Linked DNA regions of Homo sapiens. The protein of the gene in region 1 interacts with the protein of each later gene in a pairwise test. Each region holds a gene or a part of one and is shown in the gene's direction. Other genes may lie near its edges.

Region 1 (7,491 bases):
ACATGCCAAGTGAGTATTAAACTTCTTTGAACTTGTGATATCAAAGTAATTCCTAGAGCATATTAAGAGCAAATTTATTGTATGCTATTATTATACATAGTATCTCTTCATTGACAAAAGACCAATGTCTAGCTCATGTGTTTTGGCATATTGGTGCTTGAAAAATTTATTTACATGGATTTTAAGTGTTCCCTATAATCTTGATTATATAGTTATTATTTATTTTCTATTCTGTGTATGTTATTTTTGTTAATTTGTAAATTTGTGAAATTAGGGGCTTGTCTTGCTACATATTTTAATAAGATGTAATTTGCTTTTTAATCAATTCAAGATTCTGGGTTGTCTAAAGGAACATATTGGGGGAATTTGATTCTGTGTGAATTGTATGACAATGATGATAACTGGTTCTGTGAACTTTTATTGCTTTTACCAATTTTGAAGCAAAGTTCTTTGGTGCTTTGTTTGGTTCAAGATATTAAATGAGCTATTAAGCTTTTGTTCCTTTAAAGCTTTAAAAATGAACAGCTCCCGAAGTGTCTGATCTTACTGCTCTTTCTTCACTCCTAAGGTTAGCAAAGATAATGTAAGCTTTAGTCAAGTCTCATAATCTGTTGTTAAAACCTTGTTGGAAATAGCTGAATGAGGATGTAAATATGAAAAATAAAACATTTTAAGGAATGTATTTGAACATGGCGAGAAGTCAGAGAAGGGGAGGATTATGCATACTGTGTATGAATGACAACCTTTAATAAAATTGTTAGTTTTCTTGATAATTTCTTGTGCCTTTGGTGGTATGAAATTAAATATGAATTCATTTCTTTTGAGATGGTCACTGCTAAAATGATAACTCGGAATGCATGCTTTTTGCTTTAGGCCAGCTTCTTCAGGTGGTCAGAGCAGCCAATGGTGCCCAATATATCTTTCAGCCTCAGCAGTCAGTGGTTCTACAACAACAGGTTATACCACAAATGCAGCCTGGTGGAGTACAAGCTCCTGTTATACAGCAGGTAAAATAATCTTCTATTATGATCAGTATGGGGTTCTGTTTTATTCTGTATGTATTCCCTGGGTAGTTTCCCTCTCCTTATATGCACAAAAGACTCTTTTTCAGTGCTACAGACCCAGTTGTTTCAAATTTCTCCTGTATACAGCTTAACTTAGATTCAGCATGTATTAAACATGTATTAAACAATTACTGTTGTCTCTGCCCATCCTTCATCATCCCCTCGAAGGTGGCAGCACTCTCCTTCCAGCTTCCTAAGCTGGTCATTCAGCCTTTATTCAATAAGCAGTTACTGAGTCTCGGGGTATTCACAAGGGTCAGGGGATTTAGGAGTGAATGACACAGACATGACTCTAGTTTTATGATGCTTACTGGAAGTGGGTGTGTAGAATCCTCCCTTTTCCTTACCTCTAATACCCAAGGTATCAAGCCCTACCAATTCTTGTTAATAGTTTTTCTTTTCTTTTTTTTTTTTTTTTCGAGACAGAGTCTTGCTCTTTCACCCAGGCTGGAGTGCAGTGGCGCGATCTCAGCTCACTGCAACCTCTGCTTGCTGGGTTCATGCCATTCTCCTGCCTCAGCCTCCCAAGTAGCTGGGACTACAGGCGCCCACCACCACACTTGGCTAACTTTTGTATTTTTAGTAGAGATGGGGTTTCACCGTGTTAGCTAGGATGGTTTCTATCTCCTTACCTTGTGATCCACCCGCCTCGGCCTCCCAAAGTGCTGGGATTACAGGTGTGAGCCACTGCGCCCGGCCTTTTTTTTTTCTTTAACTGCAGTTTTGCCATGGTTGCAGTCCCTTAATATGTTTGACACTGTTTTTTTCTCAGCCTCTTTTTTCATTTCCTTAGTTCATACTGTCCATGATTTGTCACTAAAATGCTGCATTGTCTTCTTAATGGTTTCTCTGCCTCTCATCTTTTGCCCTCCTAACCTGGCTGATTTATAGTCATCTTTTTTTTTTTTTTTTTTTGAGACAGAGTCTCTGTCACCTAGGGTGGAGTGCAATGGCGCAATCTCAGCTCACTGCAACTCCCGCCTCCTGGGTTCAAGTGATTCTCCTGCCTCAGCCTCCTGAGTAGCTGGGATTAGTGGCACGCACCACTGTGCCCAGCTAATTTTTGTATTTTTAATAGAGACAGAGTTTCACCATGTCTAGGTTGGACTTGAACTCCTGACTTCAGGTGATCTGCCCGCTTTTGCCTCCCAAAGTGCTGGGATTATGGGCGTGAGCCACTGTGCCTGGCCTATCTTTCTAAAAATCCTAAAACTTTTAACAGCTTTTCATTGCCTACTGAGAAGAGCCTAAACAACTCAACATGGTTTATAAAATCTTTTTGTGGATCTTGTTTCTTTGAACTCTCCAGGTTTATTTCTTGCCATGCTCCCAGTTATTTTCTTTAGCTGCATTTACATCAAAATAAACACTTGGATCTACTTGTGTTATATTCTTGTGCTGTGGCACTAAAATGAAAGAGGAATGGTTATTTTCTTGAGGAACTTATGTACTTTATATGTTTATGTGTCTGTCTCTTTTTTAAATGTCAGTAAAATAGTATTATGATAGAGACAAGATCAGAGCAGTACTATTAATCCAGTTTATTTACATCTTTCCAAAATTATGTACTGCTGTCACTTCTGGGTTTCACTTGATGTTACACTTCTCTTAAGAATGCCGTCTGGCAACTCCCTGCACTTCCCCCAAACAAATAGAAAAACCTGGCTAATCTCCTTAAAGCAGCAGTCTCTTAGCTTTTTGACACCAGGGACTGGTTTTTGCAGAAGACAATTTTTCCATGTACTGGGCAGCAGGGATGGTTTCGGGGTGAAACTTTTAATTCAGGTCATCAGGCATAAGGAGTGCACAACCTCCATCCTTGCATGTGCAGTTCACAGTAGGGTTCCTGCTCCTATGAGAATCTCATGCTGCTGCTGATCTGACAGGAAGCAGAGTTCAGGTGGTGATGCTGGCTCATCCACCACTCACCTCCTGCTGTGCAGCCCAGTTTCTAACAGGGGTTGGGGACCGCTGCCTTTAAGCACAAACAGAAACTACTTACTAATAATATAAGTAATATTTGATCATGCTTTGTCCCCTAAGTTGAATTTGGTACACTCTCTTGTGTTCCCATAACACTGTGTCATATTTGTACTACATCTGCTGTGTTTTTGAGTTGTTAGTGCTTTGTCTATTATACCATTTTTTTGTCTTTTGTGTTGTTACACCACGTGTAAGCATTTTAAAGGAAATACTGTGTCTTATTTTTGCATTCCTTGAACCTAATGGCAAGTAACAAGCATCTAGTCCTCCTCCTTTATTATAATACATATAGTTAATATTTGTTAGTATATATTTTTTCAAGTTGTGGCTTACTTTAGAATCCTAGATGCAGAACCTGGAAAGGAACTTCAGAAATCTGATCTGGTGGTTTTTAGAAAAATAATTAGCTTTTATCTCACACTGAGTCAGAATATTAGGGGTATGGCCAAGGTATCAGTACTTTTTAAGTTGCCAGGTGGTTCATATTTGCAGCCAGGATTGAGAACCATTAAGCCTAGTTTGACAGTGAAACGACAGAGGCCAAGAGGAGTTAAATGACTTGCGTCTGCTGTATTTATGTCTGACTTTAGACAAAAGTAGACCCAGGTTGGCCAGGCGTTGTGGCTCACGCCTGTAATCCCAGCACTTTGGGAGGCGGGCGGATCATGAGGTCGTGAGTTCGAGACCAGCCTGACCAACATGGCAAAACCCCGTCTCTGCTAAAAATAACAAAATTAGCCGGGCATGGTGGCGCGCACCTGTAGTCCCAGCTACTCAGGAGGCTGAGGTGGGAGAATTGCTTGAACCCAGGAGGCAGGGGTTGCAGTGAGCCGAGATCACACCATTGCACTCCAGCCTGGGTGACAGAACGAGACTCCATCTATAAAAAAAAAAAAAAAAGGTAGACCCAGGTTTTCAGATTCTCAGTCCAGTGTTCTTCATGTGAAGGCAGTGTATAACTTTTGTCCTGGTAGCTGGCATATACATAGTATGTGCTCAATAAATGAAGCAGTTATCTTTAGAAAATCCTTATTTTCTAGAAATTTGATAAAATAGAAATTTAATGGGTCACTACACTAGTTAAACTAATTGCTTTTGTACTTTGGTAGTTTTTAACTGTGTATGAAATATGGCCATTCTGGTGAATCTTAAGCATTTGTTTCTATTTCTGTGTACCATACTTGATCCTCTTAACTAGTTACTGTTATGTGGTTTTCTTTTGCTTTAGGTGCTGGCTCCTCTTCCTGGAGGGATTTCACCACAGACAGGTGTCATCATCCAGCCTCAGCAAATCTTATTTACAGGAAATAAGACTCAAGTTATACCTACGACAGTGGCAGCACCTACACCAGCCCAAGCACAGATAACTGCAACTGGCCAGCAGCAACCGCAGGCCCAGCCTGCTCAAACACAAGCTCCATTGGTCTTACAAGTTGATGGAACTGGGGATACATCATCTGAAGAAGATGAAGATGAAGAAGAAGACTATGATGATGATGAGGAGGAAGACAAAGAGAAAGATGGAGCTGAAGATGGGCAGGTGGAAGAAGTAAGTTTCTAGTAACATACTTAAAATAATCTACTTGATTATTTCCTTTTTTAGTTGGTACAACACTGATAAATTATATCCTGTTTTTTTCAGAGACTGTTAGGTGCTGTACAACATAAGATTTTAAAGATAAAGTTAGATTGTTTTAACTTTAGTAAGGTTTTTATATTCTGGCTATATTTATCTTCATAAAATATAACTTTCATATAGCTGGTAATAAAAAATGTATAACAAATTAAATTGTATTAATATGTGTAGTAAAGAGTACAGGTAATTCTAACTCTGGCTTACGCATTTATAATGTGGCTTAAACATAAGACATTGGTAGATAAATAGATGTGGTTAATCTTTTGCTTCAGTAATTTAAAAAGCGTGGCAACATTTGGGGAGAGAGCAAACTCAAGAACCAAATGTCACAAATTTATTAAATATTTAAAACCTTTTGGTCCATGTTCTATACCACTTCCTTAAAAACCTATGTACCCTTAATGTCTGTGTTCTTCTAGAAGCATATAAATATGCCTTTGTTTTCCTCACTATTTCAGCTTAGTTACTAGGCTCCAAAAACTATTTGTCCCACCACAATTTTCACTGTTAATTGCCTTCGTTAGCCTAAAATGCAGTCTTTTTGTTTCTTAGTACAAAGTTCTTCTAAATTATCTAAGTAATTTTTTTTCTGAAGAAAACATAGTTTATTATTGAATATTGAATAGACACAAATGAATAGAAATGTTTCAAGATAAAAATCATCCTGGTGCCCACCATCTAGTTAAAATAAAATTCCATTATTTAAAGTGCCTTAGATGCCTCTCCCTAATCCCATCATTCCTAGGCCATCAAAGTACCTTTGCTCATACATTTGTGTTGATTATTAATTGCTTTTATATTTTACCATATATATTTATATTCCTAAATAGCATATTGTTTAGTTTTGCATGTTTACAACGTAAATGAAGTAATTACGTATTCTTCTGCAAGTTGGTTTTTTCCCCTTAAAATGATATTCCTGAGGTTTATCCAAGTTGTTGCATATAGCTATAATTATTTTCATTGCTGAATATACCATAATTTTATTTGTCAATTTTTCTAATCCAGTGGACATAAGGATTGTTTCTTGTTGTTTACTGTTACAAACAGTTATAAAATATTGTAGTGTATGTCTTCTGGGGACACAAATGCAAGAGGTTCTCTAAATTTTATACCGAACATTGAACTTCTGGCTCCTAAGTCATGCACATCTGCAACTTTATAATAAAATGCCAAATCACTTCTGCCATTCAATACATAATTGTGCAGATGTCCATACCCCCTTATCAATACCTGATAGTGTCAGGCTTCCTGATTTTTGCTGGTCTGGTAGGTAGAAAATAGTATTATTTCATTTTGGTTTTAGTTTGCATTTCCTCACTTAGGAGTTTTAGCCTCTTTTTGTATATTTATTTGATATTTGTGTTTTGTATAGAAGTGCTTATTGAGGTCTCTTGCCCGTTTCCTCCCCCTAAATTCTTCATAGTTTCAGTGCTTCTTGAAGTAACATGTTTTTATTACCTTTTCCAGTTTATTGGTAGGATGGAAATATGTAGCGCTTTTAATATTCATCCTTGAACCAGCCACCGTCCTAATGTCTTTTGTTAGTCCTCATAATGTATCTGTAGATTCTTTTGTATCTTCTGTGTAGACTTTCACATCTTATATGAAGAACGGCAGTTTTTTGTGGCTCATTGGCTAAGCCTTCGGGAACAGTATTGATTAGAAGTGGTGATAGCAGGCACTCTTCTCTTCTTCTTAAACTGAAAAGTAATCTTTTCCATGCTTCACTGTTAAGTTTAATGTTTGTTGTGGGTTTTCTTTTTTTTTAATGGATATCTTCATCAGGTTAAGTAAATTCCCTTCTTTGCATTGCTTTGTTTTTTAAACTGTAAGTGAATGTTGCATTTAATTAAACACCTTTTCTGCAATGATTTGTATAATTTCTCACGTAATGTTATTTATAATGGATTTCATTAATTGATTTTCTATTTGTAAACCAATCTTGTACTCCTGGGATAGCACAACTTGATCATTTTATATTTCTCTTTTTATAAATTGCTGAATTCATTTTGTTGAGGACTTTTTTGTAGATATTTATGATTGATAGATACTGTGTGATTTTCTGTTCTCATACTCTTCTTACAAGGTTTTCAGTTATGGTAGCTTTGTTAAATGAATTTGGGGACATGTTTCCTGTATTTTGAACTCTTTTTTTTTTTTCAAAGATTGTATTTAATTCTTCTGTTGATATTTGTTAAAACATGACACTACAGATACCTGGGTCTAGTAATCTCATGCCCTTCAAGTATTTTGTTTCTGTTTGAGACCGTTTTGATAAGTTATATTTTTCTAGGACTCTCTATATATTTATCTAAATTTTCAAGTTGATTAACATGAAGTTAATCATGATATTGTCTTTTTGATGCCAGAATCCTTTGTCATCTTCATTCCTAATATAATTATTGTGCCATCTTTTTTTTTCCCTGTTCAGTCTTACCAGGGATGTGTTGATTTTATTAATGTTTTCAAAGAGTAAACTTTTAGCTTTATTCTCTCTAGTGTGTTTTTCCCATTCTATTCTTTTCTGACTTAACTGTTTTGTTTGTAGAGAATATGATCTGTGTGATGTGTGAATCTTTTGAAATTGCTTGAGACTTGCTTGATTTGGTCAGTTTTTGTATATGCTTTGAAAAGAATGTGTTTTCTGCACTTGTTTGGTATTTGTATGTGTCTGTTAGATTTATATTGTCAGTAGGTTTGCTCAGATGCTCTTTATGTATCCTTGATATTTTTTGTGTGCTTGATCCATTTTTTTTTTGAGATGGAGTCTCGCTCTGTCACCCAAGCTGGAGTGCAGTGGCACTA
Region 2 (7,491 bases), on another chromosome or scaffold:
CGGGCGCGGTGGCTCATGCCTGTAATCCCAGCACTTTGAGAGGCCGAGGCAAGCTGATCACAAGGTCAAGAGATCAAGAACATCCTGGCCAACATGGTGAAGCCCCGTCAAAATACAAAAATTAGGTGGGCATGGTGGCGCATGCCTGTAATCCCAGCTACTCGGGAGGCTGAGGCAGAGAATCGCTTGAACCCAGGAGGCGGAGGTTGCAGTGAGCTGAGATTGCGCCACTGCACTGCACTCCAGCCTGGCGACAGAGTGAGACTCTGTCTCAAAAAAATAATTTTTTTTTTTAAGGACTACATCGTTCTTTGTTAGTATCTTTGGGATCTGTTGAATTGTGTCATTACTTATTTCCTCCAGACACAGCAGCAGATTGCTGTCCAGGGACAGCAAGTGGCACAGACTGCTGAAGGGCAGACCATCGTCTATCAACCAGTTAATGCAGATGGCACCATTCTCCAGCAAGGTAAGTGTACCCATAAGCTTCCCTAGGACTTTTTGGGGCAACTTTTTTGTCCCTTAGACAACTGACATCTTTAGAATTTGAGTGGTGAACTTGACACTACATATTTTTTGGACAAAAAAAAAAAAGATTTCCTCTAGCTCTCCATTGATTGTTGGTTTCTTGTCACCATCTGTGACCAACAGTGATTCCATGTGTAGCAGTTTCTATAGTGGTTGCTAATCTAGGGATTGTGTAAGCTTTTAGGGAAGAAGTGTTTCTAAACAGAAGAATAGAAATAGGGAGTTCATTGGTAAAGAGAGAAATAGATCAAAAATCAAGTTGGCTTTAGAGTGCTATTGCTGCTTATGTTTTTTTCTGGGTCATTCCATTACTTTAAATGACTATTATGTATACAGCACTTTTACTAAGAAGGGTCCTCAAAGAGCCTCTAGTCTAGTAAGAAAGACGTGAACAAATAAATACAATGCAGGGCCCTCATGGAAGTATGTTCTAGGAATAGATAACATAAATAATAGATGTTTGGTCTGGGAGGAGGAGTGCAGAAACTGAACTTGAAGGCTTTTGGAAGCACCTGTTAGTCAAATAGTTAAATCAAAAAAGGACATCTTTGTTAGATTCCATGACTTTGTGATTGCAAATTTGCAATATACAGGATCCAGAGAGTGCACTAACTGTGTGCTCTTGTATTACTCCAGGGAGGCCCTGAACTGGATTGAGCCCAGGCAAGAGCTCAAACAGAATGGTGAACAAATCCTCAAGTGCTGCTATTGATAGTCTGGGGACTTGGAATGCTTGGTTTAATTTTAAGTTTTAATACTACAACTGACTCATTGTCAGTTTGAGATAAACAAAGTATAAGTTTTAAAATCTCTGTCCTGAAGCAGATTGCTCATTATGTACAAGAGCAGTAGGTATAGCTGTAGTCAGACTGACCTGTAGAAGAGGAGGCCTCCAAACCTTTTCACCTTTTGAAAACTGCTAAGGATAGAGTTACTCAAAACTGGGACCTAGACAGTTAATAGAATTTCAAAGATTGTGATTACTTAGATTATATATAGCACACCACAGTGGGAGAGTACTTTTTCTCCCCTTGTGTTTTTCAGTGTGTTTTGCCAGGATCGGTGAGTGTATACCAGATAGAAGAGGGACTAACTATGTTCCCTTCTTTCTGTTCTGTGTGCCTGTTTTTTGTTTGTTTTATGTTTTGTTTTCTTAAAGTTACAGTCCCTGTTTCAGGCATGATCACTATCCCAGCAGCCAGTTTGGCAGGAGCACAGATTGTTCAAACAGGAGCCAATACCAACACAACCAGCAGTGGGCAAGGGACTGTCACTGTGACACTACCAGTGGCAGGCAATGTGGTCAATTCAGGAGGGATGGTCATGGTAAGAAAATGTATTTTTCAGCTTTGTCTTTGAAATTTTCTTGAACATGCAACTTGATGCCTCCTAAAATTTATTATGTTGACCTCTTGGGATTGAGATCGATCCTTAAGGCACTGTCGGTAATCTACTTTGACAATAACATTATGACAAACCATAATTCATTCTGAGCACCTACTATGTGCCAGGGACTATTCACCAGGGACTATTCTAGATGCTGGAGATAAAGCAATGGATAAATAGTGATTTTATGGAATTCTTTTCAGAATTCAAATAACGAAGGGAATTATATACTAATCTTTGAGAAGTGGAAAGTAGTATTGCCCATGATGGACAAAATAAGAAATAAGCTAAAAATTAGAAAGATTGTAATTGATAGAGAAACCAAAAAAAAAGTGTCATGTAAATGTATTGGGAAGATAGGAAGATTTGGGTGGTGTAACTGAAAGCTAAATCCTCATATGTCAAAATAGGATGTTAAAATGCATAAATTAAGAATGAGTAACAGAAGTCTGCACAGAGGTGGAGGAAGCTATGAAAAGAAACAGAACCAACCCTGGCTCAGTGGCATGCACCTGTAGTCCTAGCTACTTGGGAGGCTAATCCAGGAGGATGGCTTAAGTCCAGGAGTTTGAGCTCAGCCTGGGCAATGTAGAGAGACCTCGTTTCTACGAATTGAATGAAAAATAAATAATTTTTATAAAAGATTCAATACAGTTATTCAAAGCGGTTGTATTTGGGAAAGAGCTGTGGGGTACAGGACTCTGTTACTTGTTTTTACCTACATTTAGTACAGTGTTTTGGTGTTTTTTAAGAAAAATTAGGATTGAATTATAAGTTAACTATTATTTTTATAAATATAGGCATTTAGTAGCACTTGGTCTATCTATTTTTGTGCTGTTTTTTTGTCTTATGACTACTGTTCCTGACCATTAGATGGCAGCAGAAATATCTAGAGCCATGGGTGGACATGAATTAGGGCATGGTTATATAGTTTCTCAGAGTGGCACCTGAATCTCCTATGACACAGTCATCTGGGGTGTTTGTTTAAAGTGCAGATCTTTAGTATAAATTTCTCCAGGGATCCGCATTTACCCAAGTACCCTATAAAAATTACTTTTTGTGGCATTTACAAAAAAAATGGATGAAGAGGAACCAAGAAACTGTTTCTATGTCCATACTTCATGCCACCAATAAGCTCTGGTTTCCTGTTCACACAGATGGTTCCTGGGGCTGGCTCTGTGCCTGCTATCCAAAGAATCCCTCTACCTGGAGCAGAGATGCTTGAAGAAGAGCCTCTCTACGTGAATGCCAAACAATACCACCGTATTCTTAAGAGGAGGCAAGCCCGAGCTAAACTAGAGGCAGAAGGGAAAATTCCAAAGGAGAGAAGGGTATGTATAACATTGGGAAGGATATAGGAAAGGAGAATAGCAGGGTTCTACTTTTGAAATTATCTTTTATATGGCTTGTTTTCTCACGTACCTTCCAAACAATTGACGTTAGATACTTGTTGTCTCTTTTGTAAGAGTTAGCATTTGTTATTACTAATATGCAGCTGCAGTTATAATAACGAAAACAAACAGTGGCTTAAATAAGATGTTATTCCTTTTCATACATAAAAGTAGTCCAGAGATAAATTATCCTGGACTGGTAGCACATTTTCACAGTTCTCAAGACCTGTTTCACTGCTTTAATATTGCTAGTGTGCTGTTCATGGTCCAAGATTCCTGCTTAGGCTCCAGCCTAGGAAGAAAGGGAACAAGAAAGGTACCCTTTCTTTTTTTTTTTTTTCCTGAGACTCAGTCTTGCTCTGTCATCCAGGCCGGAGTGCAGTGGCACAATCTCAGCTCACTGCAACCTGCACCTTCCATGTTCAAGTGATTCTCCTGCCTCAGCCTCCTGAGTAGCTGGGATTACAGGTGTGCGCCACCACGCCCAGCTTATTTTTGTGTTTTTAGTAGAGACGGGGTTTCACCATGTTGGCCAGGCTGGTCTCGAACTCCTGACCTCAGGTGATCCACCTGCCTGGGCCTCCCAAAGTGCCGGGATTATAGGCGTGAGCCACCATACCCGGCCAGGTACCCTTTCTTTCAAGGAAACTTTGAAGAAGTTGTGTACCTTCCACTAGCCGGAATTTAGTTACCTGATCACACCTAACATGCAGATAAGGCTAGGAAAGTCCAGCCTGGTGTGGTGGCAAATGCCTGTAGTCCTACTTGGAAGGCAGAGGCAGGAGGATCACATGAGCCGAGGAATTCAAGGCTGCAGTGATTCATGATCATGCCACTGCAGTCCAACAGCAAGGGTGTCAGAGTGAAACCCTGTTTCTAGAAAATAATAATAATAAACTTTAATGCTAGGAAAGTCTTTTTACTGAACACTCATTTGCTCAAACGAAATTTGGCCTGTTATTAAAGCAGAGGAAAGTGTATATATTGTGAAGTGTAGGTGGTAGTCTGTTATTTTTTTTAAAAAAAATTCATACTATAAGCATTCACAGTCTTACAGTAGTTATATATGGTTAGCTATATTACTTACTAGGTGTTTTCTCCAAAGCTTCCATCGTCATTCTAAGTCATAATTGTCCCTTGTGACTTTGATCCCAGCTGTCTTAAACTTTGGAGAATGGAATTTGTGCACTAGATAACTGTGCTGGTTCTGGATAGTATTAATAGTTAAATGGTTTTATTTCTCGTTTTAGAAATACCTGCATGAGTCTCGGCACCGTCATGCCATGGCACGGAAGCGTGGTGAAGGTGGACGATTTTTCTCTCCAAAGGAAAAGGATAGTCCCCATATGCAGGTAGGAAGACATATACATTTTATTCTTCTCTTTATTACCTTGTATTGACTTGAGTTGAAGCCTTCAGCAGTGTCCTCTTGCTATTTTCCTACTCTGGGACTACTCACATTCTCTAAACTGGATGCAATCTTATGTCTCTTTAGATTATCTTTTATCTTAAAACCACTAGGCCAGACTTGGTGGCTCATGCCTGTAATCCCAACACTTTGGGAGGCTGAGGTGGGAAGCCCAGGATTTCAAGACCAGCCTGGGCAACATGGCAAAACTCCATCTCTACAAAAAAATACAAAAACTAGCCAGGCCTGGTGATGCATGCCTGTAGTCCCAGCTACTTGGAGGGTTGAGATGCTCTTCGTCTTTGTCACTTATTACTATTCATTCTTTCTTGAAAATCACACTTTTCTTAATTTTCAAGGAACAAGTTTTATTTTTATTGAACAGGTTTTATTACCCCATCACAAATATAATTTGAATGTTTACTTTTTTCCCTTCTAACTGATGTGAGCCTGGTCTAATCCTCTCTTCTTTGGCTTAGATTTATAAAATAGCTGCTTAATTTGGTTTCCCTTCTTCCACTTTTGTTCCCCTCTAGCCTACTCTCCACATCCTAGTGTGATCTTTTTAAAATGTTTATCCTATCAAGTCCCTGTTCTGCTCAAGCTCCTTCAACCCCTACCCTTTCCCATTTGCACTTAGACTGACATCCAAAGTGCTTACTACTATGCCCAGCAAAGCCTTACATGCTCCAGCTCCTGTCTACCTCTAACTGCATTTCTACTTCTTGGTCTCTATGCTGCTGTTTACTGTTCATTGGTCTACTTCCTGCCACGGGTCTTTGTCCTTAGAATTTTCAGTCTGTATGCCCTTTATCTTTTTCATGCATGTCTATCTCCCTATCTGTTAGGTCTGGGTTTAATTAAATACCCTATCTAGAATAGATCTCTTCTCTCTCAGTATGTTCTTACAACATCTTTTCTTTTTTTGGAGGCAGTGGTGTGATTATGGCTCACTTTAGTCTTGACCTCCCAGCTCAAGTGATCCTCCCACTTTAGGCTCCCGAGTAGCTGGGACTATAGCCACGCACCACCATGCCCAGCTAATTTTTAAATTTTTTGTAGAAATGGAGTCTCACTTTGTTGCCCAGGCAGGTCTCAAACTCCTAGGCTCAAGCGATCCTCTCGCCTTGGCCTCCCAAAGTGCTAGGATTACAGGCGCACACCATTGCACTTGGCCCTTTTCTTTACAGTGTAATAATATTTAAGTTGTTGAATTTTTCAAGATTGTTTCCTTCACTAGACTGTAAGTTGTATAGAGGGTAGAGGATTGTTTCGTTCTCTGTTATATTTATTGGACTTAATTCTATTTAAGTAAGTTGTATTTAAGTACTGACTTAGATGTATTTGTTGGGTTTAGTATCCAGTTCTGAACCAAGCAATCAGTGTTTCTTGAATTAATAGATTCCTCCCATTTGCTGATACTCCATTCTATATTAACATCACATTCCACTTGCACTATTGCAATATCCATCAAATTAATCTCCAGTCTCCTCTAATTGGCCTTATATAGTACTTATACAGTACATGGTTAAAGTGTTTTTTTTAACCTGCCAGTCCCCAGGTCAAGGATGCATGCTATTAATAGTTCTCATTTCTTAACTGCATCAAATCTCAAACTATTTCTGTATAACATCTAAGCAACTTTGCCTTATCACCCCCTCAACAATCAAACTAGGTTTCCTCAGTGTCCCCACACATGAACACTAACAACTCTTTCAGTGCTATTAATCCTCACCTGTAGTGTGAGAGCCCCTCCTTTCTCATTGCTATTCATTCATAACGGTGTATGAATGTGGGCCTGACAGCTATTGTGGCAGGAGGGCATTGTGCCAGGAACTCTCCTCATTCTGTGTGCTAACAATATGATCTTGGTCAATTCAGCCTCTTTTATTTTTATCTGTAAAGTGGAATACTGTTGATACTTCACAGCAATGTTGTAGGGATTTCATTCAGTAATCCACATTAGGCATCTGTGTAGCACCATACCTAGTGCATGGTGAGTTCAGTAAATGCTAGTTGTTTTTGCTCATTGTTCAAGACCCAGTTCCAGTCTTCCATCTCCAGAAGGCTTTCAGCTTTTTCTCAGATCCTGCCTACCAAGGCTTCAGAGCCTTGGTATGGGGGAACTAAAGGTGGTTCTTGCGGAGTGTTGCAAAAAGCTTCCAAGGATTTATCCTTGTGTTAACACGGTAGGTCTTAAGTGAGAAACAGCATATAGAGTTTAGTGGAAAGAAGATGAAATGGGAGTCAGGAGATTTGGGAGTTAGCCCTTGCTGGACTCCTAACTTTCTGACCCTGACCCTAGTCCACGCAAATCACTTTACCCATCTGGCCTTCAGATTTATCTGTAAAACGAGTACATTAAAGTGTATAGATTCTAATGATTCTTTCTAGCCCTGCTAAGTACTCAGTATTTAAATGATGATCAAAAAACAGTGACAAAAATACAGCATGACATGGTTTCTCTGGGTCTTTTCCTTAGACACCTGAATCTGAATACTCTTAACCCTTAAGTATAGAGAACAACACAAGGTTCTTAGGAAAGAGATACACTAACAGCCCTGCAGTGTTTCACCATGGAGTGCAGGCCAGACTTTAAATTATTTTAAGAATAAGGTTTATTGTCTCTTCTTTCCTAATGGGGCTACACTTTAAGCCATGTATGCAGACTTAAGATGTATTACAAGCCTTTGATTTACTTGGTAAAGTTATGTGTATTCTCTTGGGGGGATAAGTAGTGAGAGCCATGAGTTCCTGTTGCTTTTGCAAAGGACTTTA

What was found. The genes of interacting proteins can lie anywhere in the genome.
Region 2: the proteins of GTF2A1 (region 1) and NFYA interact in binary tests that used the Homo sapiens proteins (3 or more experiments, as listed by UniProt).

Annotation. Positions count from the first base shown.
Region 1 is NC_000014.9:81,189,624-81,197,114, reverse strand, and holds part of GTF2A1 (transcription initiation factor IIA subunit 1), read left to right. Parts: intron 1-873; coding exon 874-1,007; intron 1,008-4,275; coding exon 4,276-4,596; intron 4,597-7,491. UniProt on the Homo sapiens protein: TFIIA is a component of the transcription machinery of RNA polymerase II and plays an important role in transcriptional activation. TFIIA in a complex with TBP mediates transcriptional activity.
Region 2 is NC_000006.12:41,089,841-41,097,331, forward strand, and holds part of NFYA (nuclear transcription factor Y subunit alpha), read left to right. Parts: intron 1-363; coding exon 364-469; intron 470-1,687; coding exon 1,688-1,854; intron 1,855-3,071; coding exon 3,072-3,245; intron 3,246-4,555; coding exon 4,556-4,657; intron 4,658-7,491. UniProt on the Homo sapiens protein: Component of the sequence-specific heterotrimeric transcription factor (NF-Y) which specifically recognizes a 5'-CCAAT-3' box motif found in the promoters of its target genes.